Homo sapiens: one gene and its partners. The protein of the gene in region 3 interacts with the protein of the main gene of each other region in a pairwise test. Each region holds a gene or a part of one and is shown on either strand. Other genes may lie near its edges. The genes, in order: TRAM1L1, SLC41A1, ERGIC3 and PAQR5.

What was found.
Region 1: the proteins of ERGIC3 (region 3) and TRAM1L1 interact in binary tests that used the Homo sapiens proteins (3 or more experiments, as listed by UniProt).
Region 2: the proteins of ERGIC3 (region 3) and SLC41A1 interact in binary tests that used the Homo sapiens proteins (3 or more experiments, as listed by UniProt).
Region 4: the proteins of ERGIC3 (region 3) and PAQR5 interact in binary tests that used the Homo sapiens proteins (3 or more experiments, as listed by UniProt).

The regions. Positions count from the first base shown.
Region 1 is NC_000004.12:117,083,052-117,090,558, reverse strand, and holds TRAM1L1 (translocating chain-associated membrane protein 1-like 1), read left to right. Parts: upstream 1-4,982; 5' UTR 4,983-5,165; coding exon 5,166-6,275; 3' UTR 6,276-7,005; downstream 7,006-7,507. UniProt on the Homo sapiens protein: Stimulatory or required for the translocation of secretory proteins across the ER membrane.
Region 2 is NC_000001.11:205,796,190-205,803,215, forward strand, and holds part of SLC41A1 (solute carrier family 41 member 1), read right to left. Parts: intron 4,872-7,026; coding exon 4,764-4,871; intron 3,642-4,763; coding exon 3,570-3,641; intron 2,913-3,569; coding exon 2,768-2,912; intron 2,627-2,767; coding exon 2,480-2,626; intron 1,863-2,479; coding exon 1,715-1,862; intron 815-1,714; coding exon 735-814; intron 1-734. UniProt on the Homo sapiens protein: Na(+)/Mg(2+) ion exchanger that acts as a predominant Mg(2+) efflux system at the plasma membrane.
Region 3 is NC_000020.11:35,552,078-35,558,160, reverse strand, and holds the end of ERGIC3 (endoplasmic reticulum-Golgi intermediate compartment protein 3), read right to left. Parts: intron 3,790-6,083; coding exon of another isoform or gene 3,775-3,789; intron 3,118-3,774; coding exon 3,086-3,117; intron 2,129-3,085; coding exon 2,032-2,128; intron 1,955-2,031; coding exon 1,890-1,954; intron 1,189-1,889; coding exon 1,052-1,188; intron 968-1,051; coding exon 912-967; intron 737-911; coding exon 657-736; 3' UTR 527-656; downstream 1-526. UniProt on the Homo sapiens protein: Possible role in transport between endoplasmic reticulum and Golgi. Positively regulates trafficking of the secretory proteins SERPINA1/alpha1-antitrypsin and HP/haptoglobin.
Region 4 is NC_000015.10:69,295,031-69,301,921, reverse strand, and holds the start of PAQR5 (membrane progestin receptor gamma), read right to left. Parts: upstream 3,011-6,891; 5' UTR 2,866-3,010; intron 1-2,865. UniProt on the Homo sapiens protein: Plasma membrane progesterone (P4) receptor coupled to G proteins. Seems to act through a G(i) mediated pathway. May be involved in oocyte maturation.

The DNA of each region.
Region 1 (7,507 bases), on a different chromosome or scaffold from region 3:
TAAAACTTTATTTTTTATTGTGATGGGGGCTTGCTTTCTTGCCTAGGCTGGTGTCAAACTCCTGGCTTCAAGGAATCCTCCTGTCTCAGCCTCCTAAAATGCTGGGATTACACATGTGAGCCATTGCGCCCAGCCAATGATAAAGGTCTTTAACATTAAGAGAAAGGATAGTATAGGCCAGGCACTGTGGCTCATGCCTGCAATCCCAGCACTTTGGGAGGCCGAGGGGGGTGGATCAAGAGATCAAGAGATCGGGACCATCCTGGCCAACATGGTGAGACCCAGTCTCTACTAAAAATACAAAAATTAGCTGAGCATGGTGGTGCGCACCTGTAGTCCCAGCTCCTAGGGAGGTTGAGGCAGGAGAATCGCTGGAACTCGGGAGGCAGAGGTTGCAGTTAGCTGAGATTGCGCCACTGCACTCCAACCTGGTGACAGAGCGAGACTCTGTCACAAAAAAAATAGAGAAAGGACAGTATAAAATACTCATCTGTTTAAAGTGTGCCAAAAATATTTGGGCAATTATAATTTAATTTTTAATATTTCTAATACTTATTAATTTCCAAGCAATTAAAGAGAAACACATGCTTTATTTCCAGACTATCTAAATGAATCATATAAACTAGCTATGTATAAGGATTATTAGTCTCTGAGCATATGTTTTAAAGCACAGATTCAAAGATTAAAATACAAGTATGTTAGAAGTAAAAAATTTCAATGGAAGTTTACCTTTAGGGAAACACTAAAATAGCTCTGGTGTTGTGTGACCCTTAGGTAGGTCTACATCATCACACCTTGAGGGAGAATCTGTCAAGGATTCAAATAACTGTAAGAATCATTTTTTCTCTGTAAAACTAGGGAATACAGGCATTTCCAATGAGAATTAAAATAATTTTTATCTGTATGGGTAGTTTATTAAAGTTGGATTGTTTTGGTCAGAAAGTTGATAAAAGAGTTAAAATACTATTGATGTTTTCATCTATATTAGCACTGATATATAAGGATATTACAAAAATAATGCTAAAATGATCTTTTCTTTATTTTTCATTTGGTTTTCATTTTTTGTGTAAGTGTATATATACACCCTTAGTGAGTTAAGAAAAATTTGAAATTCCATATGAATCATTAGGGAGGCAGTGATTCCATCAAGGAGGAAGTAGATTTTTTGAAGACATCATCAAGCTGCAATTTAACGTTCCTACTAGACACCAAATAGAAACACAGCAGCATTGTTTTTTCATGTAAAAAAAATGTATAAGGTGGTTTTTCTGTCATATGTCATGCCATATATATTATACAACTGAAATTTTGGAAGAGTAGTAGAATCAGAGGAATATTCCACATCAGTTACTTCACAGGCAGCAACCAAAGAAATATTTTATATAAACAAAGAGAGACGAGAGAGAGACTGTTTTAAAAAATACAATAAAAAATACAACAGTTCAGTGTAATGTTTGCAAATTACAATTTATACAACGGCCTTTTTGTAGTTTTGCAGCTTCCACAAATAGTATATCTCACAAAAGCTGAAGTAATCCATTAACACAATACTTACAATGTTTAGACCTTAGACCAAACTTTAAATTCCTTAACCCTGGCCTACAGGCATTATAAGAAATGCCCCCTAATGATCTCTGTTACTTTATCAATCATCCCTCTCCCTTACTACATTCTTGTCATCCTGGCCCCTTTGCTGTTCATGCGACAATCATTCTTGCTCTTGCCTGGTAACGTTTGAACTACGTCCTAGGATGTTTCCCTCCAGACATTTGTATAGTTTACTTTAACTTCATGTACATCTCTATTCAAATATCACCTATTTAGAGAGGCTGTCCCTGCCCACTCTACCTAAAATAGTTATCATCATTTATGCTTCATCTTCTTATCCACATTTTCTTCCCAGCAATTTTCACTGGCTATTTGCAAACACATATTTGTACTGTTTGTGTCCTCTAGTTCTCCCTGATTATTATGTAAGCTCCATGAGGATGGGTATAAGGTTTATTTTCACCCATAAAAGGGGCAATTGAAAAAATAAATTACTAAATATTGATTTTAATTTTATGAATTCTTACATTTTAGTGGGAGACTGACACTATTAACCTGTTCCAGGAGTTTATCCTTAGATAGTGCTTCATATTTTTTCTTGGTATGTTACTAATAAATCCATGGGCAAATAAGTATTCTAAAAGCTGTAAATATTATGTTGAGTTTTCCTTATTACGATAAATATTTAGCCATATTGCATAGGGTGTGTTCTTCTAAAAGCTCATGTTTTAACATGTCTTATCAATTACAAAAATGACTTTAAAATAATAAATATATCTTTAATTAAATTATTTAAAACTTTAAGTCAATCAAATCCCAAGAGACTTTGTAATTTCATGCACAAGATAAACTGTATTTTTTTGCTTAATTGAGCTAAGCATTTGGTGAGCTCAGTCAATTATAAATGTTAATTATAAACATCGATTTAAAAATCAGACTTGGGTCTGATATTTTGAAGTTCAAAGCAACATTTCTTGCTTCTTCAAATGCAACTGAATTCTGGAATATTAATGTTCAATTCAAGTAATTGAATAATCCAAATTTAAATTATTAAAAGGTTGGTATTATAGAGATATACACATATATATTATTCTTAGATATAAAAATATTGAAAAGTGAGGCTACCTCTATATTATAATGTTTCTTCTGTACTTTACTATTTTAGCAAAATCAGAATCAATGTCAGTTTATATTTTAAGGTAATTATTTTAAAAGACACATAACTAATTTAAAAGAGCTTTTTATAGCTAAGCTATTCATATAAATAATATTGAGTTATAAAATACAGACATCAAAAGGTTGTATTGCATAGCTAACAGCAAGAACTAATTATTAACACCTATTTGAAATACAGTACCTTAACTATCGTGAGAACTTTTATTGATATTTTTAAATCAAATGTTTCTTATAACAAAATCAATATAGCATTTTAAATAGATAATTCGACCAATGCCTGGCAATCGTCTGAATACATGAGACCAAGAAAGATTGAGGATAATCAGAAACTGATTCATATGTTGTTCTGTTGATTCCACCTGTAAACTTGTTTATTCAACGTTAATTCCTTGAAGTATTAATGTGTAATTAATACTCCAGAATTAATTCTATAATCAATGACTATTACATGACAAAGACAAAGATAAACAGTATTACGTTAACACTATTTGGCTTCTAGTGTCTTTTATCTTTTAATATATGCAAGCCAACATACAGAAACAAATCAACTTATAATATTTAATCCATGTTTTAGGGAAAAAAATCTTTCACCATTTCCTAGAAAGGAAGATTGGACTCAAACCAAAATCTAGGAACTTTACCTGGATGTATCTTATAGTTATTATTGATTATTGACTGCTGTGTGCATCCATTTTCTCACTCGTAGATGGAAGTGTCTGTTGCATTTTTCCTACGCTTTGGGTGTGTGGGAGCCAAAAACTTTATTCTTTTAGTTCACAAGTCTTCAGACCAAGAGTAAGTACAACAAAGGATAGGACTTTCCTTTATCTGCTCCTGGATCTGATTTAGCTTACAAAAATATCCTGTGTAAGAAGCCTGAACCTGATGCTATATTGATATGAGACTATTGTTTGCATTGGAAGGAAAAAGTGTATATTTCATGTCAGAGGAAACAAAATTTATTCCCAACGGAAAGGATGTGGCTATTTTTAAAAAATTAGCAAATACTAGGTACATTTCTCATTAAAAGTTGATGTGTATGGTCCACACCCTCCCCTCCATCCTCACTCCACCTTGAAGTAAAACAGGCTTGTGCCTACCTTGGTATTGAAAATTATATAATATAACTTCTAATACTAGGTCATAAAAGGCCATTTACTTTCTGTCTTGCTTGCTAGAAATCCCACTTTTGGAGCATTAAGCCACCCTTTCATGCTAATGCCAACAATGCACCTAGAGGCCATAAGTAGGCATTCTGGTAGACAGTCCTAGAGTACCTTAACCTTTTCAAGGCTTCTTATAAACTTTGTGTTTATAAGCATGAATTAGCTTTATCCTTAGGGCAAGTTTAGCCTTACTTAAAACAGTGTAGCTTTCCTTGGATCTTGTCTGAATGTTGCAAGTGTTCAATGAGGATTCTACTTTCTGGCTGTTCCAGTCTTGAAAGTTTCCAAATCCTACGTGAAGTCTTGGGAAACTTCAATTCACAATTCCTCCATATATGCAAAACCTACACAAATGACATATGAGGTTCTTTTCTGTTATAATGAAGAAATTAAGTTTTGAGCTTTGTAGCCAAAAAGAGACCTTTCCATGAACTAATACATCTCTCCCTCTAAGTGCCAGTCTTTCAAAATACTGGCTAGACGTTATCATTTCAAACATTATTATTATTGCAAATAGGGGAACTAGTTTTAATATGCTATCTTGTTGACCTAGTAAATATTTCCAGGTATAATTGATTTACAATAAGAGACAATACAGCGTAATAGTGAAAAACAGGCGCTCTGGAGCCGGACTGGATTTAAATCTTTGCTCTAACCCTTACTAGGGAGGTGAATTTGGCCATATTACTTAACCTCTCTGTGCCTCAGTGTTTTGTCTCTTGAAAAGGGGTGGGGGAGGGGAGATTATCACAGTATCTACCTCACTGGGTGTTTCAGGAAAGTTAAATTCATAAATATAAATAAAATGCTTAGCACAGCAACTGGTAATTAGTACTGGGAGTTTGCTGTTATTATTATGCTATTGTTGTTATAATTAATGATCTGAAGAATAACCAGAGCTCTATAGGTTTATCATGATTACTAATGAAGATGCCACTAAAAAAAAGAATTCAGGAGCATCTTGGCGGTGGCAGCGAGTTTGAAGATGCGACGATCAACGTTGAAGATCACCGCTCGCAACCCCGGGCCTGGCGCCGGGTAGGGGCGCGGCGCTCGATTTCCTTCCCTGCCTCCGCCGTCCCCCTGGTGCGCATGCTCAGCTCAGCTCGGCCCTCGCCTTTGATTTATTTTTTTTCTGGGCGGCCGCTGCGACCCGGGACTGACTTCGGGATGGGAAGTGGAGCCCCCGGAGCTGCTACCGTGGCGGCGGCGCTGTGAGGAGCAGCCAGGGGGAGGCAGCTGCGGCTCGCCGGTGAGTATCCGGGAAGCGCCACCATGGGGCTCCGTAAGAAGAGCACCAAGAACCCCCCCGTTCTCAGCCAGGAATTCATCCTGCAGAATCATGCGGACATCGTCTCCTGCGTGGGGATGTTCTTCCTGCTGGGGCTTGTGTTCGAGGGAACAGCAGAAGCATCCATCGTGTTTCTCACTCTTCAGCACAGTGTTGCTGTCCCTGCAGCAGAGGAACAAGCCACGGGCTCAAAGTCCCTCTATTATTATGGTGTCAAAGATTTGGCCACGGTTTTCTTCTACATGCTGGTGGCAATCATTATTCATGCCACAATTCAGGAATATGTGTTGGATAAAATTAACAAGAGAATGCAGTTCACCAAAGCGAAACAAAACAAGTTTAACGAGTCTGGTCAGTTTAGTGTGTTCTACTTTTTTTCTTGTATTTGGGGCACATTCATTTTAATCTCTGAAAACTGCCTGTCAGACCCAACTCTTATATGGAAGGCTCGTCCCCATAGCATGATGACATTTCAAATGAAGTTTTTCTACATATCCCAGTTGGCTTACTGGTTTCATGCTTTTCCTGAACTCTACTTCCAGAAAACCAAAAAACAAGACATCCCTCGTCAACTTGTCTACATTGGTCTTCACCTCTTCCACATTACTGGAGCTTATCTCTTGTACTTGAATCATTTGGGACTTCTTCTTTTGGTACTGCATTATTTTGTTGAATTACTTTCCCACATGTGCGGCCTGTTTTACTTTAGTGATGAAAAGTACCAGAAAGGCATATCTCTGTGGGCCATTGTGTTTATCTTGGGTAGACTTGTGACTTTAATTGTTTCCGTACTCACTGTTGGGTTTCACCTGGCTGGATCGCAGAATCGGAATCCTGATGCCCTTACTGGAAATGTAAATGTGTTGGCAGCTAAAATTGCTGTTCTGTCGTCCAGTTGCACGATCCAAGCCTACGTAACATGGAACTTAATTACTCTCTGGCTTCAGAGGTGGGTAGAAGATTCTAATATTCAGGCCTCATGTATGAAAAAGAAACGGTCGAGATCTTCTAAAAAAAGAACAGAAAACGGAGTGGGAGTGGAAACTTCAAATAGAGTAGACTGTCCGCCAAAGAGGAAAGAGAAATCTTCATAATCTTTGCAAGCGCATTGATTAATGTCTGCAAAGGAATCTGCTCTTTGAGGTTTCTTTCTGCACTAGAGATTTTTCTGTTTTTGAAAATAGTTCGTGCTCTTCGGTTTTTGTTATTGAACTGTTTCATGTATTTTTTAAAGACATTTGAGGGGAGGAGGATTATTATGAATGGGAAAAAAAGATTTTGGTTGAGACTAAATTACTCATCGTCAAAATAATGTCAAAATAGTTTTGGGGATCACCACTATATTTTGTTTTGATTTTTAACCTTTCAACATTTTCCTAATGATTTGCAGAGATAACTGCACAATTTTGCATATCAATGATACTGGTTCTTACTCCCACCAGTGTTTCATAATACTAACAAGATGGTCTCTCCTAGCAAGATTATGTGTTTAATGCTTGCTTTGGGGTAAAATAAAAGTACGAAAAAGGTGGAAGTCAAATCAGTATTCTGTAATTGTTAGAATTTATTTTTTAAGAACTTACAACTCAGAAAAGATTGCTAGACTCACCAAAATAATAAATGTTCTTTATTTTACAGGTAGTGATTATTAGTGCTTCATCCCCATTTAAAAAAACACAGTACTAATGGGTAACACATATGGAGGTTTGCTGCCATATATATTGCATCAAAATATCATTAATTAATATAAAAATATTAAAATCATTCCTGTCCATTCCACTTGTAAATGGGAATTCATGAAATTAAATATTACTTTAAAAAGGACATTGAACTTAGTCTTTTTTAAAAATGTTTATTAAAAATGATTCCTAATGAGGCCTTGTAAGATCAGTAACCACAGCATCTTAGAAAAATATTGTTTGTATACCAGGTTGAAAAATAATACTTGGCATGTGTATAAAAAAAGTCAGCTAATTACATTTGGAAAGCATGTTATGCATCAACCTTCAATAAGTTGAAAATCAGATAGTCACATGAAAGGCTTTTGAAAAATAATGTTGTGATTATTTGTCTTCATCTTTAATTGGGGAACATTTATCTGTATAAGACATATTTTGAAGATTATTTACATACACATGTATGTATAATCTGTATCTTTGCAGAAGCCAATGGAAACAATGGGAATTAGTGGGTGAGTATTTATACGTATTGCCTCTCAATCCTTATTTCAGTTTTATTTCCATAATGTGTTTATATAATTTTTCAGTAAGACAGTACTTTACAAATATGCTAGGGGAAGGCCATATATTTCCTATTCCGTTATATT
Region 2 (7,026 bases), on a different chromosome or scaffold from region 3:
TTTCTTTCCCAATCCCTCCCTGCTTTTCAGCATTGGCTTCCCCATGTTGGGGGCAAAGACAGAGCTTTCACTGGACTCCTATAATGCTATTCCCTCGTTACTATGGTTTGAATATAGTTTGTCCCCAACAAAACTCATGTTGTGGCTTGGTCCCCAAATGTGGTGGTGGGAGGTGGTGCCTTTAAGAGTGAATAGGTTATTAAGATGGATTAATGTCTTTCTTGGGAAAGGTATAGTTCCCATGAGAGTGGGTTGTCATAAAGCGAGGTTTGCCTCTCTTGTTTTGCCCATTTTGCACATGCCCAGTTTTCCTTCTGTTTCTCCATTTGGATGTTTGGATGCAGCATGAGGCCCTCACTAGAAGCAGCTGCTCAATCTTGAACTTCCCAGCTTCCAGAACTGTGAGCTAAATAAACTTCTTTTCGTTATAAATTAGCCAGTTTCAAGTATTCTGTTCTAGCAACAGATAATGGACTATGATACTCCCCTTGACCCTTTAGGAGTAGAGGCTTCCCATTGCTGCTAATCTCTCGGTGCCTCAACATCCCTTATCTGTCCTTTTACTCTGCTCCCACCTCTGTAAGCAGTCCCTTCATTAAGGTCTTGAACCATCTGAGCTAGATTCTCGTCTGCTGGAACCCTGACTGATACAGAAACCAACCCCTTAAGTCCTCTTCTCCTGTCCCTTTCCTTCCCCCAGCCCTGCCCTCTGATAGCTGATGCCCAGACCTCACCATTAATCACAGGCGTGAAGACAGCCATCCCAGCAAAGTTGGGGTCTGAGACAGTCTTGTCCAAGATGAGGCCTCCCACACTATAGAGACATAAAGACAAAATGACGCAAAGACCACTGAAGGGTTCTGCCTTAGTCTCTGGGATGAGAGGTCCAGGCCCACCTATCCTTGGAGATGAAGGGAAGCACCATGGCTCTCAGGAGTTCCTCACCATCCAGTCCTTGCCTCCCTTGACAGGATTAGGTGCTGCTCATAACATTCTGACTGGGCACAGTGACTCCAGAACAAGCTGGTGGTACTGGGTCAGGCAACCACCTCCTGTACCTGCCCTCTAAGTTGGCCGGAGGAGCAGCCTGCAGGACTATCTGCCTCTGAGGACCTCTGTTGTTCTGCCCACTCAGCATTTACTTCCCTTTCTGGTGATAGCACTGGGCTCCTCCACAGGGAACCACCTCTCTCAAGCTCAGTGACTGTGGCTCAGGTGACAATGCCTCAATGATAGCTAGGCTCCAGGTCCATCCAATCAGAGGATTGCAGCCCCAAGGCCACGCTGACTGGTTTGGAGATAATCATGTCACCAGATGAGAAGCAGTGGAACTCTATTCTGGGACTTTGTGGAACTGTTGGGGGAAGAATCTCTCTTCCCACTGGAATTTGTAGGAGTAAGAAAAGCATAAACCTGGGCTGTAGGCCATGACAGAGAAGAGCAGAGCTAAGAGTCACAGAGTACTGGGGCCCTGATCTTAGGTATGTCGCTGAATTCAGCTGTGCCTTTTTGGTTCTCCAGGCCAATACATTCTGCCTTGGAATGAAACCCAGTTCAGATGGTTTCTGTCATTTTCAACAGAAGGACATGTGACTGAAACACTAATGAACACATTTCTAGGGTCTGACCCCCACCCCATCTCTCCAGGGTTTAAAAAGAAGTCTGTGGAAGGGTTGGAGTGGGGTAGGAGTGGATACTCAGGGCCCCAGCCTACCTGCTGATGGCCATGGCAATGATAACAGGCTCCCAGCCCGAGTACAACACCTCCCTTGTGGCTGGACTTCGTCGGGCCAGCACCACCCAGACAGGCAGCAGGGCCACAAAGAAAGCACACACCAGTGGGTAGATGTATCGCCAGTGATCTGAGAGGGCAGAGGTCAGAAGGAGATAAGCACTGTGTTTCCCTACCCTAAGTTTCTCCCTGGCTCAGCCTGAAAATGTCCCAACAGATCAATAGCAAGACTACACTAAATGCCAGTAAACACATTATCCCATTTGATCTTCACTGGCAGCTCAGGAGGTAGGTGGGACAAGCCTTTTCCATTTTATGGATGAGGAAACCAAGGGAGAGAGCTAGCCAGGCACTGAGCCAATTAGGGACAGAGACCAGAGGACAGAGACTCTAGGTCTCTTGATTGGAGCCCAGAAAACACCATCTCCCACCCGCTTCTTCATTTTGCAAGCAGATCTAAGCCTCTGGTTCCTTTCCTTTACCCTTTCCACCTCATCCCTCCAAGAGAAGTAAGAATCTGCAGGACCACACAGGAATATACTTCTGATACTTTTCCCCTGCCCCTGATGCCTGCTTGAATTTGAGATCAGTACTTAGCTTCAAATCTCTAAGATCAGGAATTATTACAACCTGTGTTCAAACCAAATAGTTTAAGAACACAGAAGAAACTCTTGCACATTTGCAAACTACTACCATCTCTCCCAACCCCACCCAGGACTCCAAGAAGCCACACTCTTGGTGGCTCACTCAGTTCCAGGTAGAGTCCCCAGCTGATGCCTGAGAGCAGCGCCAAGGTGATGAGGTCGCCCAGGCTGGCAGCAATGGGTGTGGCCACGTTGTCTGGGTTGATCCCAATCTTGCGAGAGCCAATGATGACTCCAATCATGATCATACCTGGTGAGCAAGTGGGAGGAGGGGCAGGCAGGGTGAGAAGAGATAAAGGAGTCTCAACAAACAAAAAGAGAGAGTGGAAGTGCCAGGTGCAGTGTTCTCTGGGGCGGCACTCCTTACTCCTCTATGCCCTCCCTTTCTTACCCAGTACCAGGGAGGCAATGAAGGCTGTGGCCACGCTGCTAGCACAGAGCAGGAAGGCGTGCGGAATACTGAAGTGGCCATCAGGGATCCAGCCAAAGACGACGGCTGCGATGGACGCCAGGAAGCCCACCACCGTGGCCTGCACCTGGGGACAGGAGTGGTAACTCAGAAAGCCCTGAGAGCAGTGGGCTTCCTAAGCTGAGGTCATAAGCATCTGGGCAGACCTCTTCCTGGCTGGCAGTAGCCCCAGGAGGCAGGCTGGACTGCATGGTCCAGTCCTCCCAGGCTGGAAGGATGTCTTTATTTATTTAGGTTCACACCAGCCACTAGTACTGGGCAGTGCACTCTGCAGGAGCCCAGAACATGTTACTGGCTGAATGAGTGTGCCTCTGGGGATGGGAGTGAGGTTCAACAGAGCCGGAGACTTCCACCCAGAGTCAAGGCCTGGGCCTCAAGGGGGAAGGCTCCCAGTCTGAACCTGTGTGGTCTCATGGGGAGATGGGACAGCAGTGGCACAGGACATCTCAGCACTCCTGAGTCTGCTCATATTGCCAGGATCTGCTGGGACTCAAAGGCACGTGCACCACCAAGAACTGAGAACCAGAATGGGTGATGCTGGGCCCTCCTCATCTTGGGCGTTTTCCTGGGTAACCTAGTTACCTCCTAGAGCTACTCTGGGGGAAGCCAGCTCAGTGGGATACTGGAGATTCACTCAGGAGCCTGCTGGGGCTGACCTAAGCCTTTCAGAGATTCCTGACTAAGGGGAAGCTTAGCCCACCCTCTCTGGTCCCTGCCTTCTTACCTGGATGAGGGCCATGTTCCCAGTGATCATCCGCCAGAGCTCCTTGGGTGTGTCCATGTGTCCAATGTTGGCCTGGGAAAGGGAGGGCAAGGGGCTGGAGCTTCAGGCTGGAAAAGGCCTGAAGCTCCATCCATTAGGCTCCTGCCTAGATCATGAGGCAGTACATGTGGCCTAAGACTCTGAGAGCAGGACCTGACAGTCCCGGAAAGGTGAAGCAGGATCAGGGAAACTGAGGTGAAAGGGAAGGAGCTAAAGCTGGGCTCCTGCAGCTGGGTGGGGGGTTGGAAGGGGGTCCCCTAGGCAGTCGCCTCTCTTCCTCTCAGGACACCAGCTGAGCAGAGGCAAATTCTATCCTTTGCCCTGCTTATCTGGGCAGCCCATTCCTGCATGGGTCAGAACAACCCAGTCCCTGACTCTGAAGCCAGCCTGCGATCCCAGGGAAGGAAAGGTCAGCTGCTGGTGCAGGACTGAGGCTCCAAGAGTATTTGGGAAGGAGTGGGTGGCATGGGCCAGAAGTCGGGTATGGCAAGTCAGGGTGGGTTAACTTGGATGCCACTTCTGTCTGTCACCTTCTCTAGACTCTTGACCCTGCAGGGAGATCCCTGGCCTCCTGAGTTTTATCATCTCCCACCTCCAGCCCAGGGCCCTGTATCTGTTCAGGCCCGGAATCGTCACGGCTCACAACTGTGGGAGGTAGGAATGACGAGCAGCTCCTCTCTGTCTGTTTCCTTAAAGAAGAGCAAGCTGCCATGGGTAAAGGGAATGGGATGGCCGGGGGGCTGGGGGTGCTGGGAGGGCCTGGCTCTGCTCCCGCCCAGCTGCAAAGCAGGGGCTGGAGATCAGAGGAGGCCCCCATCTGTGCGGGTGGAGGAACCAGCATGATGCCTGCCTGTCAAAGCTGCACAAACAGTCACGAGGTGGTTGAGAGGTAGGGGGTGGGGCAGGAGTCCAGGGGTGGCTGGGACATCCAGAAACCAAGCCTGGGAACCACTTTGGGCAGGGAGCCCCTGCCCAGGAGCAGGACACCCAGCCTGGGATCTCCCTACACCTGCCCAGCCAGGCCCTCCCTTCCCACCCCAGCCCCACACTCCAGGCCTGGGCAGTGGAGAAGGGCTCGTAGCCCTCTCCCAGTCTCTGGCTCTGTGCTGCCCAGAGTCCTCTCTGTGCCCCACTCCTCCCAGCCAGGATACTCACTGCAGTGGAAAGCCTTGATGCCAGGGTCATTTCCAGGTTCCCTTTGAGCCCCAGCAGCGCAGGCACTAGGATGAAGACCTCTGTCACCTTCTGGAAGACTTCCCAGTGCTACGAGGTGAAAACAGAACCCAGGAATTTCAGTGCCCCAAAGGGCGGGCATTGAGGTTCAACAGGTAGTCTGAGATCAGGGGCTCGAGGAGGAAATAGAATCAGCAGGGAGTGAGCACGCCAGCCACCTTTCCTCCAAGAACCTTGGAACCAAACCAAGCCCATGATTCTTCAAACAACACAACCCCCCTTCCTGCCACCCAGAACCAGGGAGATGGAGAGGGTTTCTGCCGGTTGGGAGACTCTCAGTCTGGCCCTACCTTTTCTGTTTTCCTGGAGGTGGGTGGGGAAGGGTAATGGGGACCCACACAGCTGAGCTGCCCTGGGCTGCCTGACACCCCAGAAATCCTTTGCAATCCCCCCTCAAATTGCAATCCCTGGCCCCTTTGCCTTCAGTCCAGTTTCTCTGTTGTCTCAGCTGTGAAGAGTTGGGCTCCACAGGGCTGGGGCCGAGGCTGGGGAGATTAGAGAGTTTGTTTGGTTTCTATCTCCAAGGGCTTTGGGCCTCAGCCACAGCAACTCTCCTTCTGAACAGGCTCTGAATTAAGACTGTGGCCCCTAAACCTCTGAATGCTGGCCTGCAAGAGGCTTTTTATTTCTCTGTGCACTGCCTTACCCCCACACACCTTCCTCAATCTCTCAGCTAGGAGAAGCAAGTGTACTCCTGTAGGAAGAGCCCTGGACCGGGAGTCAGGAGACCTGAGTTCTAGTCCCAAGACAATCAATCCTGGCTCTCCTACCAATGTCTTTGGTTAACATCTATTAAGGACTGATTGTGTGCTAGGCTAAGTGCTCTCCATGTATTTTCTCTTTTAATCATCTTAACAACCCAGTAAGGTAGGGGCTATTTTTATTCTCATTTTGTGAATGAGTAAACTGGGGTTCAGACAGTATTCCACTAGTTAGTGCTAAGAGGACTGCAGGAACCAGGACTGGCTATTTGAAAGCTACTTTACTTGCAATTGAAACTGAGGACTTGCAAAAAGGTTTAGGATTGTGTCTCCCTCCCTGGCCCTAACAGGGTAGGTGGTTTCTTTTATTTGTTTTAAGAATGGAAAGCCTCCAGGTTTGGAGAGGGAGGAGGAGGCAGGAGGCCAGGCGGATATATATGGGTTGGTCTGCGTATCATGGCTGGGAGGCCAAGCACTATGTTTGGCAAGGGCACTGGACCAAGAGCCTTGGGTCTCCTACAGGAGACAGCAGGGATGGCCCCCTGCTTATCTCCCCAGTACACCTCCTCACGTAGACCGGCTGGACACCTTAGACAAGTTACAAGGGCCTCAAGCTCTTGAAAAATGTTCAATTCAGGGACCAGATCAGATGGTCTTTCAAGGCAATTCCAACACCCACACTCTGTCGTTAAAGATGAGCAGTGGCCGAGCGCAGCGGCTCACACCTATAATCCCAGCACTTTGGGAGGCCGAGGCGGGCAGATCACCTGAGGCCAGGAGTTTGAGACCAGCCTGACCAACATGGAGAAACCCCGTCTCTACTGAAAATACAAAAATTAGCTGGTCGTGGTGGCACATGCTTGTAATCCCAAGCTACTCGGGAGGCTGAGGCAGGAGAATCGCTTGAACCCAAGAGGTGGAGGTTGCAGTGAGCCAAGATCGCACCACTGCACTCCAGCCTGGGCAATAAGAGTGAAACTCTGTCTCAAAAATAAAATAAAATAAAATAAAATAAAATAAAATAAAATAAAATAAAATAGATAAAATAAAGTTGAGCAATACTGTAGATTAGTAAGAGATCACCTCACACTCATTAGGATGGTTACTATTTAAAAACCCAGAAAATAATCAGTGTTAGCAAGGATGTAGAGTTTGGGCTGGGCATAGTGGCTCATGCCTGTAATCCCAGCACTTTGGGAGGCCAAGGAAAGTGGATCACTTGAGGTCAGGAGTTGGAGACCAGCCTGGCAAACATAGTGAAACCCTGTTTCTACTAAAAATACAAAAATTAGCCGGGAATGGTGGCGCACACCTGTAATCCCAGCTACTGGGGAGGCTGAGGCAGAAGAATTGCTTGAACTTGGGAGTTGGAGGTTGCAGTGAGCCGAGACAGTGCCACTGCACTCCAGCCTGGGTGACAGAGCAAGACTCCGTCTCAAGAAAAGAAAAAAGCATGTGGAGATTGGAACCCTTGTGCACTCTTG
Region 3 (6,083 bases):
CTACTTTCGCACCTCAGTGTTCAGTTTTGCTTCCATCTAGACTGCAGAGGACCTGGAGGGATTCCTCTCTGCAGTGAGAGCCAGCGTGGGGTTTGGCACAGAGTGGGATCAGTGAGTGTGACAGGATCAGGTGTATTGAGCCCAGGGTGGCGGAGAGCGGCCCCAGCTTTACCCATCAATGAAGAAGTGGCAAGCCCCAATATGCACTCAGGGCCCTGAATTAGTGGCCTGGGGTTGATCACTCATGAGCCTGGGGGCCATGGTGGCTCCAGGAAGCTCACGCTGAAAAGGTCCATCTGAGCCCTGGGGCTGAACCCGAGAGGCCTGAGGACCACAGTGGAGGAGGGACCCAGGACAGGGCTGTGGGCTGGACATGAACCTGGTTTGAATAAACCCCGGTTAACTAGGGGATGCCCATGTGGGGCTCCCGAGGGCTCTGGGCCCCGATCTGTCAGTCACAATTGCCTTCAATGAGTGGCCAGGATGAGGCTCTGGCCATGGCAAGGATCACACGGAGACCAGTGAGTACTATCACAATCAATCAATAGATTTATCAACCTGGGGCTGGGGCTGACCGAGGAGGTGGAGGGTGGCAGAGGCTGGGGGACAACCACAGGCCAGGGAGAAAGAGGAGACAGAGGAAGCACCGAGGGTGACTACGTTGTCTTCCCTAGATCAATTTTCTTCTGGATGGCTCGTGCTGAGTGGTAGATGAGCGAATCGATGAGTCCAGCCACTGGGAGAGAGACAAGGGCTGGCACTGGCCCAGTGGGGGCCTTGGCTTTTGACGCTGAGAGCCTTGTCACTTAACTGGCCAGGCCAGCATCTGCCCCTTCACCCCCAACCAAACCTGGGGCACCCAGGCTTTACCCTCCCCACCCCACAGCTCACAGACGCCCTGGGCCTCTTACCTGTGAACATGCCCCCAATGATGGCGCACACACCTGTCAGGAAGTGGGTGAAGGACCTGGTAGAAGGAGAGGGTGGGCTCAGCAGGCATCCTCCTCCCTCAGGCCCAGGCCCCCAGAGGCCGCTTTGCCCCCATCCTCACCTGTGCTTCTCCGTCAGCTTCACCATCATGGGCGAGAGCTCATAGAGGACGAAGACTCCGGGAAGGCCTTGGTCGCCCAACAGCCCATTGGCAACCTTCTCATGTCTGGTCACAGAGAACTGATTTGTCCTCAGTACCTGGGGTGGGAGGGGAGCCTGGGCCAGGGCTAGGGCTAGGACCTGGCTCCAGCCACCATCAGCCCCACCCCTGCTCCTTCCCCTTTCCTGTTGAGCCTTGGCCGTGTAAGGAGAGAACACAGCACCGTGCTAGTGGCCTGCACTGCAAGGCCTGGCCCGCCAGACCCCCTCTCCTAGTCTTGGCCTCAGCCTTCCCCTCCAGGTGCCAAGTCTTTACAGTTTACCTATCCTGGCAGCATTTGGTGGGTGTTCTCACGGGGGTCCAGGCTGAGAAGCAGCTCTCCAAAGACGCACCAAGGCTGACCTGACTTCCTCTGCCCTCAGCCCCTCGCATCCTGCCACTCTGCTGAGATGCTGCTCCACAGGCCAGGGCAGCCTTGGGAGCGGGTACACAGAGACTTGCCTTGCCTAACCCCCAGCCCAGGCAGACCACAGAGAACAGTGAGGCAGGCAGACGGTGGGCACCGGAGGAACGGATAGAAGCGGTGAGGGCAGCAGAAAGAGCAGGCGCTTTAAATCTAACAGCCCCAGGCCTGCACTCTGCCTGGGAGGGCAAATCCCCCACCCTCTCTGTGCCTCAGTCTTTTATTCGCCATGTGAGGACGAGGCAGCTTTCACTCCCCAGGCTGACGGAACGAAATGCAGGAACTCCAGTGCTTGGCACCGCGCAGGAGACTCTGGTAGGGAGCTCCCTGACTCACCTCTCCGTCCACCTTCATGTACACAGTGGGCACCACCTTCACAAAGTACTGGAACATCATGGAGGCTGAGGGGAAAACAAAGCACTGGGTATGGGTGCCCGGCCGGCCTTCTGCGGCTGGGGGCTGCCTCCCGGGCTGGTACCTTGGGGCGCAGTGACATTGGTGTGGTCCAGGGGGTTCACAATGCCTGGATAGTCCTCCCCAAATGACAGGTGCTGGATGTAGTGGGTCATGTTGATCTGTAAACAACACCATCCAGAGCTCATCCAAAGCTCTGATGACAGTAGCAGACAGGGACACCTGGGTCCGTCTGCGGAGATGTGGGAGGAAGGGGAGGCTATGGTCCTAAGGGGACAACCTCCCCGAGATAAGAATCCCCCATTCCCTGCCTAGAAACTCCTCCTTCCACAGCCTGCAAACTCCTGGGGTTCCAGATTTTTCTTTTTTTTTTTTTTTTTTGAGACAAGGTCTCACTCTGTTGCCCAGGCTGGAGAGCAGTGGCATGATCTTGGCTCACTGCAGCCTCGCCTTATTCAAGCGATTCTCTTGCCTCAGCCTCCTGAGTAGCTGGGATTACAAGCATGAGCCACCATGCCTGGCCAGGTTCCAGATTTCTTAAAATACCAGCTTCACTTGTACGTTAGGCACACAGAGTAGCAGGTGCTGGCTTTGCCTGGAGGCCTAGGCTGGAGGCTGTGAACCCCCAGATACACTCCCTTCCTGCTCCCTTGTGTATCAGCCTCAGACACTAGAAGGATCTTTCCTAAAATGCAAATCTGATTATGTCGTGATCCTGCTTAAAGAAGGCCAACAGCTTTCCACTGTTCTCATGAGAAAGATGTGATTCCTCAGCGTGGCCTCTGAGTCCGGTGTGGTCTGGTCCCTGCCGACTTCTCCAGCCTCACCCATCCACACCTGCCCCGCAGTTCCTTAGAAGGGCCATGCTCCCGCCTGACCTTGCGCTGAGGCTCTGTCTGTCTAGGATGCTCTTATCCAACCCCAATCTTGCCCCTAGCCTGCTCAGAGTTCAGTTCAAAAGTCACTCTCGCTTAACCCTCAGGCTGGATCCCCATTCAGAACGTGGTGTATTTTTCCATATGCACTACCCCATCCCAGGATGTTCCTACAAGGAAATGAAGGCAGCAACCAAGCCTCCCACCCCCACCTGCCCTCCATGGTTTCCATCTGGTACGTACGTTGTCAAGGCCAAAGCTCTGCAAGTCATGGACTAGGAGAGAAGGGAGAAGGCAAGGGAGAAGGCGTCATTAGTAGGAGCAGCACTGGCCTCCTCCTTCCTCCCCCTGGACTGCAAACCACCTGTCTTCTCTGCCCCTCATTCCTTCTCCAGCCTGGCACCTCCTGGTCCTGCTTAAGGACAGCCAGAAAGGGCAAGCCTTGGGCCTGTGTGAGAGTTCACGCCCTCCTCAGGAGTCTTTAGAACAGACCCTGGTTCCTCCCTGACGTCCACAGGGAACTCTATGCCTTGACTACCACCATGGCCCTGCCTGCATCTCCGGAAACAAAACCCACCGACTATGGGCTCTCACTAACTAGAGCTGATGGCAAATCACTGAACCTCAAAGTGAGGTGGGATCTGAGAATGCCATCCACACTTTCCCTGCCTCCACCCTCAAAGCTCCCCAGAAGAAATCCCATGGGGACCCTGTACCAACTGTTCCAGAACAATTTATTCCTGCCCTCTAGCCTCAATCCCTCCTGCTGCAAGGAACCATACTTCAAAGATACATCCCAGACCTTTTACAGTCACCCAGCAGCCAGGTCAGAGGAGACCCAATCACAGCCCCATCCAACCTCCCCGCCATTCTAGTAGGGCAGGCTGCCCCAGAAGTAGGGGTTTGGCCTCCATGGGGGCAGGGCCACTTACTCTCCACAGCATGTACTGCAGCATGGGGGAGGGAGGAGAGAGAAGAAAGATTCAGAGCTTCACAATGAGAACTATGAGAGCAAGATATGTTGCAGGAGGGAAGACTGGAACATTCAGCCTCAGCAACACAGTCTGGCCCCAGCTAACAAGCCTCCTTCTGGGCCCCTCCTCGAGAGTGAACTAATCTGGCCAGAGAGGAGCAAAATAGTGGCCTAGAAGGACAAGAGGCCTAGAGCTCAAAGAGCCAAGTTCCTGACTGTGTGGCCTTGGGCAAATCAGTTGCCCTTTCTGGGCCTCAGTGTTCTCCTTTGCAAAGGGCTGTCCTAAGGATCACGTGGGATCTAAGATGGAAAAATACTTGTAAACTTTACACTGTAAGAGATTATTACCCACCCCAGCCCCAATCAACAAGGATGTTAGAAACTCACTCCCAGGCCTCAATTCAGCCAGATCTCTGGCCTTGGGCAACTGTACCTTTGCATTTATACATCCTTCCAAATACAGAGCACCCCCGGCCCGGGGATCCACAAGTCTAACAGTCCCAGGCCAAGAGGCTGCCACTCTGGCTGTGTGTCTACTGAGTGCCCGCCAGACCTTGTGCCAACAGCTTGACACTGATCATCTTCCTGCCCTCCCAGCAAGACCCTTTTCTCCCAGCTTCCTCCAGAGTGAAGAGGGGGTCCCAGAGCTCTGCAGGGTCCTCCAGCCCCCACACTGGCCCCTCCCCAACACAGCCCCACCCCCACAGATTGCCCTGAAGACCAGCAGAGCTACCCTCCAGGGGGCCCTTTCTTCCTGTTCACTTCAACCATTTTGAGAGGCCATCTTCATACCCTGGGCTCTGTCACTGTGCAGCTCTGTCCATCCTTTACTGTGACACCAACTCCCACCTTCCCCAACCCTGCCTTCAACCCCTGGGTTCCTCTTCACTTTCTTGCTTCAGCCTGGCTCTTCCTTTCAGGCACTAACTCCCTGGCATCCCCTCAACGTGCGACTATCTTCTCTCCATACACAACCTCTTCCCTGGCCTAAAGAGAAGTCTTTCTTGCTCCTTACTGCCACTTCCAGATCACTTTCCCTTTATCTGCCTTAAAAATGCACAATGGCTCACATCTGTAATCCCAACATTTTGGGGGGCCAAGCGGGAGGATCACTTGAGCCCAGGAGCCTGGGCAACATGGCAAGACCCTGTCTCTGCAAAAAAAAAAAAAAAAATTAGCCAGGCATGGTGGCATGTGCCTGTGGTCTCAGCTCCTTGAGAGGCTGAGGTGGGAGGATCTCGAGTCCAGGAGGTCAAGGCTGCAGTGAGCCAAGATTGTGCCATGGCACTCCAGCCTCAAAAAAAAAAAAAAAAAAAAAAAAAAAATCCCCAGCTTTGAAGCTCAGGGCAAAGCAGCCCTGCTTGTTTCAGTCACCTAGATATCGATATGGAACCTCCAGAACAGTTTTCCCATGCCATTTTTCAACAGCTTGGGCAACTGCCTGTCACTCTCTCCTGTACTACCTCTGTCACACGTTCTAGTGATTTCCATATCCACGTAGATGATCCTTCCAGTACCCGGGCCTCCCAGTTCCTGGACATCCTTTCCTCCCTGATCTTGTGCTCTGCCTACCCAAGCCACTTGCTCTGTTGGCCATTCCCTAAACTTTGTCATTAACAAAGCCCCTTCTGTGACTTCAATTTCAAGCAACTCATGCTCCACCAGCTTTCTAATTTCCTCCAGTTCCCCAATTCCAATAACTTGTTGACACTACACTCAGGACTTGTAGTCCCTTTTTCCTCCTGCCCCCTCACTGGCTTCTCCACATCCTGTCTTTCCTCCTTTCCTAGCTCATATGCTGTGGTCCAGAATCAAGATGAGTTCTTTACATATTTGACTCCCTCACCTTTGCAGGCACCTGGCAACACCAAACCCCATGCAATTGCAATGTTCTGTTGACTGAGTCCATTCCCACACAGACAACCATGCTGACCGCTCTCTTTGCATTCACAGCCGCGGACTCCAGGGAGGCCCTAGGGCTGCATCAATCCTACTCAATCTCCCCAGTCCACGCACTCTTCCACCCCCAAGTGACCAGTCACATCTTTTCTTCTTTCAAATCTCCAACACCTCCTTCCCTCTCTCCTCATTCTCAACTGAGGACCTTCCTTCCTACAACACGGAGAAGATGGGAAGACTCAGAAGAGACTCTCCATGTACTTCTGCCACACCAGCTACCACCCTACCTGTACCTACAGAGCCTGCCCTTCCTCCTGGTGCTAAGTTTGGACTTTCCACATATGTAAGGCACTAGATTCTGTCTTCTTT
Region 4 (6,891 bases), on a different chromosome or scaffold from region 3:
CATTCTTGACTCCTAACACTGTGCTAAAAAAAAAAAAAAAAAAAAAAAAAAAAAAAAAAAAATCTCCCCCCATTTCTTATGAATTCACAATTTTTCTCTTCCTGTACGGATCATTTTTGAAAACATGTCTTGTAAACCTTCTGTGTACTCAGGATGAATGAGGGATGCCAAGATGCTGAGAAAGGACTTACCGCCAACCAGGGAGGCCAGGCTAATACACATGAGAAAATAACAATCCGCTCTTACAGTTTGATTTGCAGCCCACAGAGTCCTTTGGAACCACTTACTATCTCCTAAAACCACACAGGGTCTGTTGCTCTCATTTTACAGATGAGGAAATTGAGGCCCAGAAAAGCACCTTCTCTTCCCTCAATACATAGCTGCCCCATGGAGTGGTAAGGAGAGAGAGGAGACAATGAAGATTAAAGTTTCCAAATAATTCCAATTCCAATTCTTACCCCCAGAGGGATGCATAAGAATTCTACGTAAAGGGACAAAGTTGCTCTGCCTCAGTCTAGGGTAGAGCCAAGCTTGGCATGGAACCCACCAGCCTCGGCCTCTCCTTGGCGGGACAAGGGTAAAGTGAAAGTCCTCTGTCTCTCTGGAAAAGCACATGGGGGCTGGGTGCAGTGGCTCACGCCTGCAATCCCAGCACTTTGGGAGGCCAACCCGGGTGGGTCATCTGATGTTAGCAGTTCGAGACCAACCTGGCCAACATGGTGAAACCCTGTCTCTACTAAAAATGCAAAAATTAGCTGTGTTTGGTGGCAGGCGCCTGTAATCCCAGCTACTCGGGAGGCTGAGGCAAGAGAATTGCTTGAACCCGGGAGGCGGAGGTTGCAGTTAGCTGAGATCTCGCCCTTGCACTCTAGCCTGGGTAATAGAGCAAGACTCAGTCAAAAAGAAAGAAGAAAGAAAGAAAGAAAGAAAGAAAGAAAGAAAGAAAGAAAGAAAGAAAGAAAGAAAGAAAGAAGGAAAGAAAGAGAGAGAGAGAGAGAGAGAGAGAAAGGAAGGAAGGAAGGAAGGAAGAAAGAAAGAAAGAAAGAAAGAAAGAAAGAAAGAAAGAAAGAAAGAAAGAAAACGAACTAAAGGAAGGAAGGAAGGAAGGAAGGAAAGAAGGAAAGAAAGAAAGAAAGAGAGAGAGAGAGGGAGGGAGGAAGGAAGAGAAAGAATGAAAGAAAGAAAGAAAGAAAGAAAGAAAGAAAGAAAGAAAGAAAGAGAGAGAGAGAGGGAGGGAGGAAGGAAGAGAAAGAATGAAAGAAAGAAAGAAAAGAAAGAAAGAAAGAAAGAAAGAAAGAAAGAAAGAAAGAAAGAAAGAAAGAAAGAAAGAAGGAAAGAAAGAAAGAAAGAGAAAGAAAGAAAAGCATACGGGATTAAGGATGTACTCTTGGTGTAAGGGGAAAATGTTGCCCCACGTGGGTAAGGGTGCCAAGGGATCTCAGTGGTGGGGCTGGACACCTTTCTGATCCAACTTTTCAGAGTGCCCTTTCTGCTTGCCAAGGGCAGAGATAAGGCAGTTGGAAAAGAAGCTTTGCTGTTGCAGGCTAATCATTCCATTCTCGCAGAGCACCTTCCGTGTGCCAGGTACTATTGCTACGGCAGGGAACAAAGCAGGTCCCTGCAGGGAACAAAGCAGGTCCCTGCCCTCCTGCAGTTCTGGGAGCTTAGCAAGGCTCTGGCTGGCTCTTGGAGGACCTTACTGACTGGAGTTTGTGTCTGCTTGGAGGTGCCCTCTCCCCTGAACCTCTTTCACAGGCAGAACCTAGGGGGGTGGGGAGTGGGGTAAAAGAAACAAACCTCTGCTGAGTCAAGGGCACTGCAAGAATGCAGAAGCGACCATGCAGCTCTGGAAGGATGCGGTGGGAAACCCGCCACTCAGTGGTGGAGAAAAGCCCACCAGTTTCTCCAGCAAATGGCTGAGCTTTGTTGGGCCTCCTTGTCTTCTCATCTGCCCATGTGTTAATATCTACTCGCCATTGGTTTGTTAGGTTCAAATGAAATCAGGGATGTGTCCCTTTTTGGCTGCTAGCTCTTCTCAGATCCCCTGACCTCTCCCCATCTCTTCTCTATGGCTCTGCGTGGGAAGGGGCAGTTGTCACCCCCGACTCCCACTAAGCTGAGCCCTCCTCCCAACCTAAGCGGGAGGAAGCCGGTTCTGCTCACGGATAAGAGTTACCGGGCTCCTGAGTTCTTGTTCTGCTGGGCCGGGGTCCACCCCCTCTCCTGGGCTCATCCGACTAGGACTTGGGAAGTGCTAGGGGAGCCAGGAGATGCCCAGCTGGGGGCTGTGGCCGGGGGGAGGCCAATGACAGAGCAGGGGGAACTCCCTGTAGCTGGGCACCCACTTCAACAGGGCCGGGACGACCCCCGCAGGCAGTGGGCCGCCCCTCACCCACACGGTCCTGCTCAGCCCAGGCTCACATCTGGGCTCAGGAGGCGGGAAGCACAGGTGTAAAGAAATCGCCAACTGTGCAGCCCCAATCCAAGGGTTTTATTAAAGTGGGGGCGGCGGGAGGGGGGCGGTGGAGGAAGGATAAGCGGCGCAAACGCCCTGGAGAGTGAGAGAAAAGGTGCGAGAAGGCAACAGCTCCCCTCACCGCCCTCGATTGCAGCAGAGAGCCTTCTGCACGGCGGCGGCCGCCCCACCTTCACACCGGCCCCGCGTGCGGTGAAAGTGGCCGAGCCGCGCCGCCGCCGGATCAGGGCCGCCCCGGCACAAACTTTCCCAGACCCGCCCTCGGAGCGGCCACCCAGGCTCAACGGGCTCCACGGGCGCAGGGCGGCTGGGGCTGCCGCGGAGGGCGGGTGCGCGTGGACCGGGAGGTGGGGAGGCGGCGCGCGGCGGGGAGTCCCGCCCCGGGTTACCTGGGTTCCAAGGGTCTCGGGAGTCCAGTGGACAGGGCGCGGGGACAGCACAGGCAGGCCGGAGACCAGACACTCCTCCCGGGCTGCGGCGACCCCGGACTCGCGGGCCCTGCACCTGGCCCTGCGGGTCGCCGCGCCTACCCATGCCGGTCCCCGCCCGTCCCCTCCCGCGCGGGGCGGGGCGGCCCCGGGGGAGGAGCCGAGGGCCGTGGGCACCACCCCCTGAGCCAGGCCTGCGCCTCATCACGTGCCACCGACCCTGGGCTCTGTGACTTCCAAAGACTCGCCACCCCATTCCACAGCCTGAGGTGCCACCAAAGCCATAAGCCCAGGGGAGTCTCTCACACCCCATTCTCCTAGGGCCCATGTACCCCACGCCCACCTCCACCCCAGGAGCCGAAGGCCGGCAGGGAGCCTGGAGAGCCTCCTTGATGGGAGAACTGCGGAGCTTGCCCCTCGGAAAAGTGCATGGGGTGGAGAACAGGGAAGGAGAAAAAAACAACAACTGGGTACTCGCAGCCCCACCGCGGTGTCCGCTTCGCCGGTGGGAGAGGATCCTCGCCGCCCTGAATCCTTGAAGTGAGTTCCACCCCTGTCTCTTGGAGTGCTCAGGGTGGCGGGCCCTTTGCCAGCCCTCACCCTTTCCCCAGGGATCCTGTCCCAGGTCACAGGCTCCTAGACTGGAAGGCGCTGGGCCTGGACCTCTGCCACTCAGTGGACACAGCTATAAGAGATGAAGGGACACAGAGGACAAAGAAGAAACATTTGGCTTCAGGGAACCAGACTCTGTGTCTCCTCCCAGGTGCTGAAGGAACAGGTTGCAGCTACCTGGTGCCCCCACCCCGACCCTGCCAGAGAAAGGTTGGAACATCCACACCTGTGGACCGAAGTCCCCCACCAGGCTCTTTCCTCCCACCCTTCAGCCCCAGGCTCTCTGAGCTCCTGCTCCTCCCTGCCTTGCCTTGTTTGCTGAGGGCACACACAGTGGAGAGAGCACAGGACTGGGAGTCCAGAGACCTGGGCTCTAGTCTACTCTGTGACTCGGGTCAAGTCTCTGGCCCTTTGTGGGCCCAAGTTGCCCCATTTGCAGTGAATAGGTTGCAGTCAATTATCTCCGGCCATTTTTACGGATCCTGAACCGTGGTCTTGGGCACCTTGCTTTATTAGGCTTTTTGGTGGCTGTGCATCTTGTAAGGGTGTGTATGCATGTGCGTGTGTGTGTGCGTGCGACATGCGCTTGTCCTCTCAGACCCAAGTTCTTAAAGGGAAAGAGACTGGGGCCTACACAGAGGCAGGCATGTATATTCCACAGACCAGAGTTTGACAAGAATGACTGGACACAAGAGTGGAGCCCAGTCCCAGCTCTATGCTGAATTCAGAGTAGCCTTGGACAAGACCCTCACCATCTACAAAATGGAGATTAATAATCCCTGCTTTGCCTTTCCAAGGCTAGTCGGGGGACTCAGTGAGATATTAGATATGAAGCTCTTTGAAGGGGAATAGCACAGGGATGTGTGCTTTTGATGTCTGGGCCAGTGATGGGTTTGGGGGAAGAATAGGGTGTGAAGCATTCTCTGGGAGGCAAAGGCTGGCACTGGACTGATTGGCCACCCTGCCAAAGCTGCAGCATGCACAGCACAGGCAGGCACCCCACCACCAGCAGCCAAGGTGAGCAGAGATGCCTGGTGCCCCACCTGGATTCCTGCCTGCTGTAGGTATCTGTGTGTGCACCTTGAAGAAACTAAAGAGGGAAGATAAAGAGGCTCCCAACCTAAATGGAGGTGGTCAGTGGATTACTGATGAATCGATCTGCATATCTTGGCCAAAATCACCCTCCTCTGCTCTTAGGGAGTTTAAAGTCTAACTGAATGATTGAACATGAACCCTTTGGAGAATGATGTGGAGCCAGGAGAGGGGATTGTGGATGGTGAGCACACAGGATGATCAGAGGAGGGGGAAGGGCAGGGAGGGGCCGGGGAGGGGGGTACTTAGACCACATGGAGATGCATTTAGAGTATTGTGTTCAACACTCCTATTTCATAGTGATGAAATGGAGGCCCAGAGAGGGAAAGTGACCTGCCCAAGGTCACACAGTCACAAGAAGTCAGTAGCAGAGCTAGAACTTGGACCCAGGACTTCAGGAATCTATGCTGGATTTGAGCCTCCTGTGCAGCCGAGGGAGACCTGAAGTGTGGGAAGGACTGGGATACGTACCAGTGGGCAGGAAGAAAGAGTGAGGCAAAGTGCAGAGGTGGGAACTTTGTACAGCAAGGGAAAGGAGCTGGAATCACAGGCAGGATCTGGAAGGAGGGAGCTGCCCAGACCTGGAAAGCCAGGCTGAGCACTGCAGACCACAGAGGGTTTCGAGCTGACACCAGTTGGGAAGATACAGGCGTGCGAGGGGCACACGCCCAAATGACCCAGTGAGACAGCAGGTGACATGACAGCAAGGCAGCAAGGAGACGGGGAAGAGCAGCTCCAGGAGTCAGGCAACCTCCAATCAAATGGCCTTGAGCAAGTTGTCTCTCTTCTCTGACCCTCAGTTTCTTTTTTGTGGAGTGAGAGATAATCATCTTTTTTTCCTTTCAGGGTTATTGTAGTGACCACAGAATGCATTTGGAAGTGCTCTGTAAACTGCAGAGTGCTAAGTAAATTTAATATTTGGAGTTGTGTTTTATTTTCCAAAGGGCTCAGTAAACATTTGTGGAACTGACTGATATTGGATTGGACACTCTCCTCATGGCAATGGGCAGAGGGACCACAAACGGAGGGGGGCAGGGATTGGGGTGGTCAGAGGGAGTCCTGGCAAGGGTGTGAAGGAAGGAGAGCTTCAGTCTTAAATGTGAGTCTCCCTCTGACATCTTTACAACATAACTCAAAAAGCCTTTTTGGGGGGAAACAGTCCTACCCCAATCCATGTGACTCAAAATGCCCCATCTCTTCCTTTGCCTGTGTGTTCAAGGGGCGCCATATCAGATGTCACTATTCTATGTGTTCTTCACCCATCCCCACTGGCCATCTACTCCTCAGGCACTCACCAGCTCCTCCTGGGTGGGCCCAGACGTTATATTTGTTTACAAGGCCTTGTTGGATAGCAGAAACGGTACTACAGAAACCATCGCCCTTAGTTAATATGGCAAGATTCAGGTCCCTCACATGTGTTCTCAGCCCCCTGGCACCCAACTCTACCCCAATCCATAAGTCCGCTCACGCCTCCCCTCTCCTTGGCAATGGAGTCACCAGGGCAGGGCTTACTGCCCCACTTGGCAGATGAGAAAACGGAGGCTAGGAGAGAGGCGCTGCCTGGCAGCGCGAAACCTAGAACAGCCTCACCCACACCGTCAGAGTTGCCCTGCTGATGAGGCCATTATCTCATCAGGGCTGGAAGTATTTGCCTCATTTGACAGAGGAGGAAATGGGCACTAAGGGCAAGGACATGCTTTACGGGAACTTCTTGCAGAGCTTTCTTTTCTGCCACTGTATCCAGATAAGGGGTCCATGTTGCCAGTGGTTTCCCAGTGTTGCCGTGACAAATTATCATGCACAGCACCTTCAAACGACAACTATTTACTCTCAGTCCTGGAGGCCAGAAGTCCCAAGTCGGGGCATTGCAGAGTTGTGCTCCCTCTGAAGCTTCCATGGCTCCCTCTGACCGCTGCCCATCCCTGCCCCCTACGTTTATGGTCCCTCTGCCCATGGCTGTGAAGAGACACCATGCCCAATCCAACACTGGTCAGTTCTACAAATGTTTACTGAGGCCTTTGGAAGATAAAACACAACTCCAAATATTGAATTGGCTTATCACTCTGCAGTTTACAAAGCCACTTCCAAATGCATTCTGTGGTCACCACAATAACCCTGAGAGGGAGAATCCTTCCTTGTCTCTTCCAGCTTCTGGTTCCCAGCATCCCTGGGCTCGTGGCAGCATCACACAATCTTGCCTGTCTTCACATGCTGTCTCTGTGTGTCTGTGTCCTCTCGTCTCTGTAGAACAGCAGTCACTGGAGTCAGGATGAGCTCATCTCA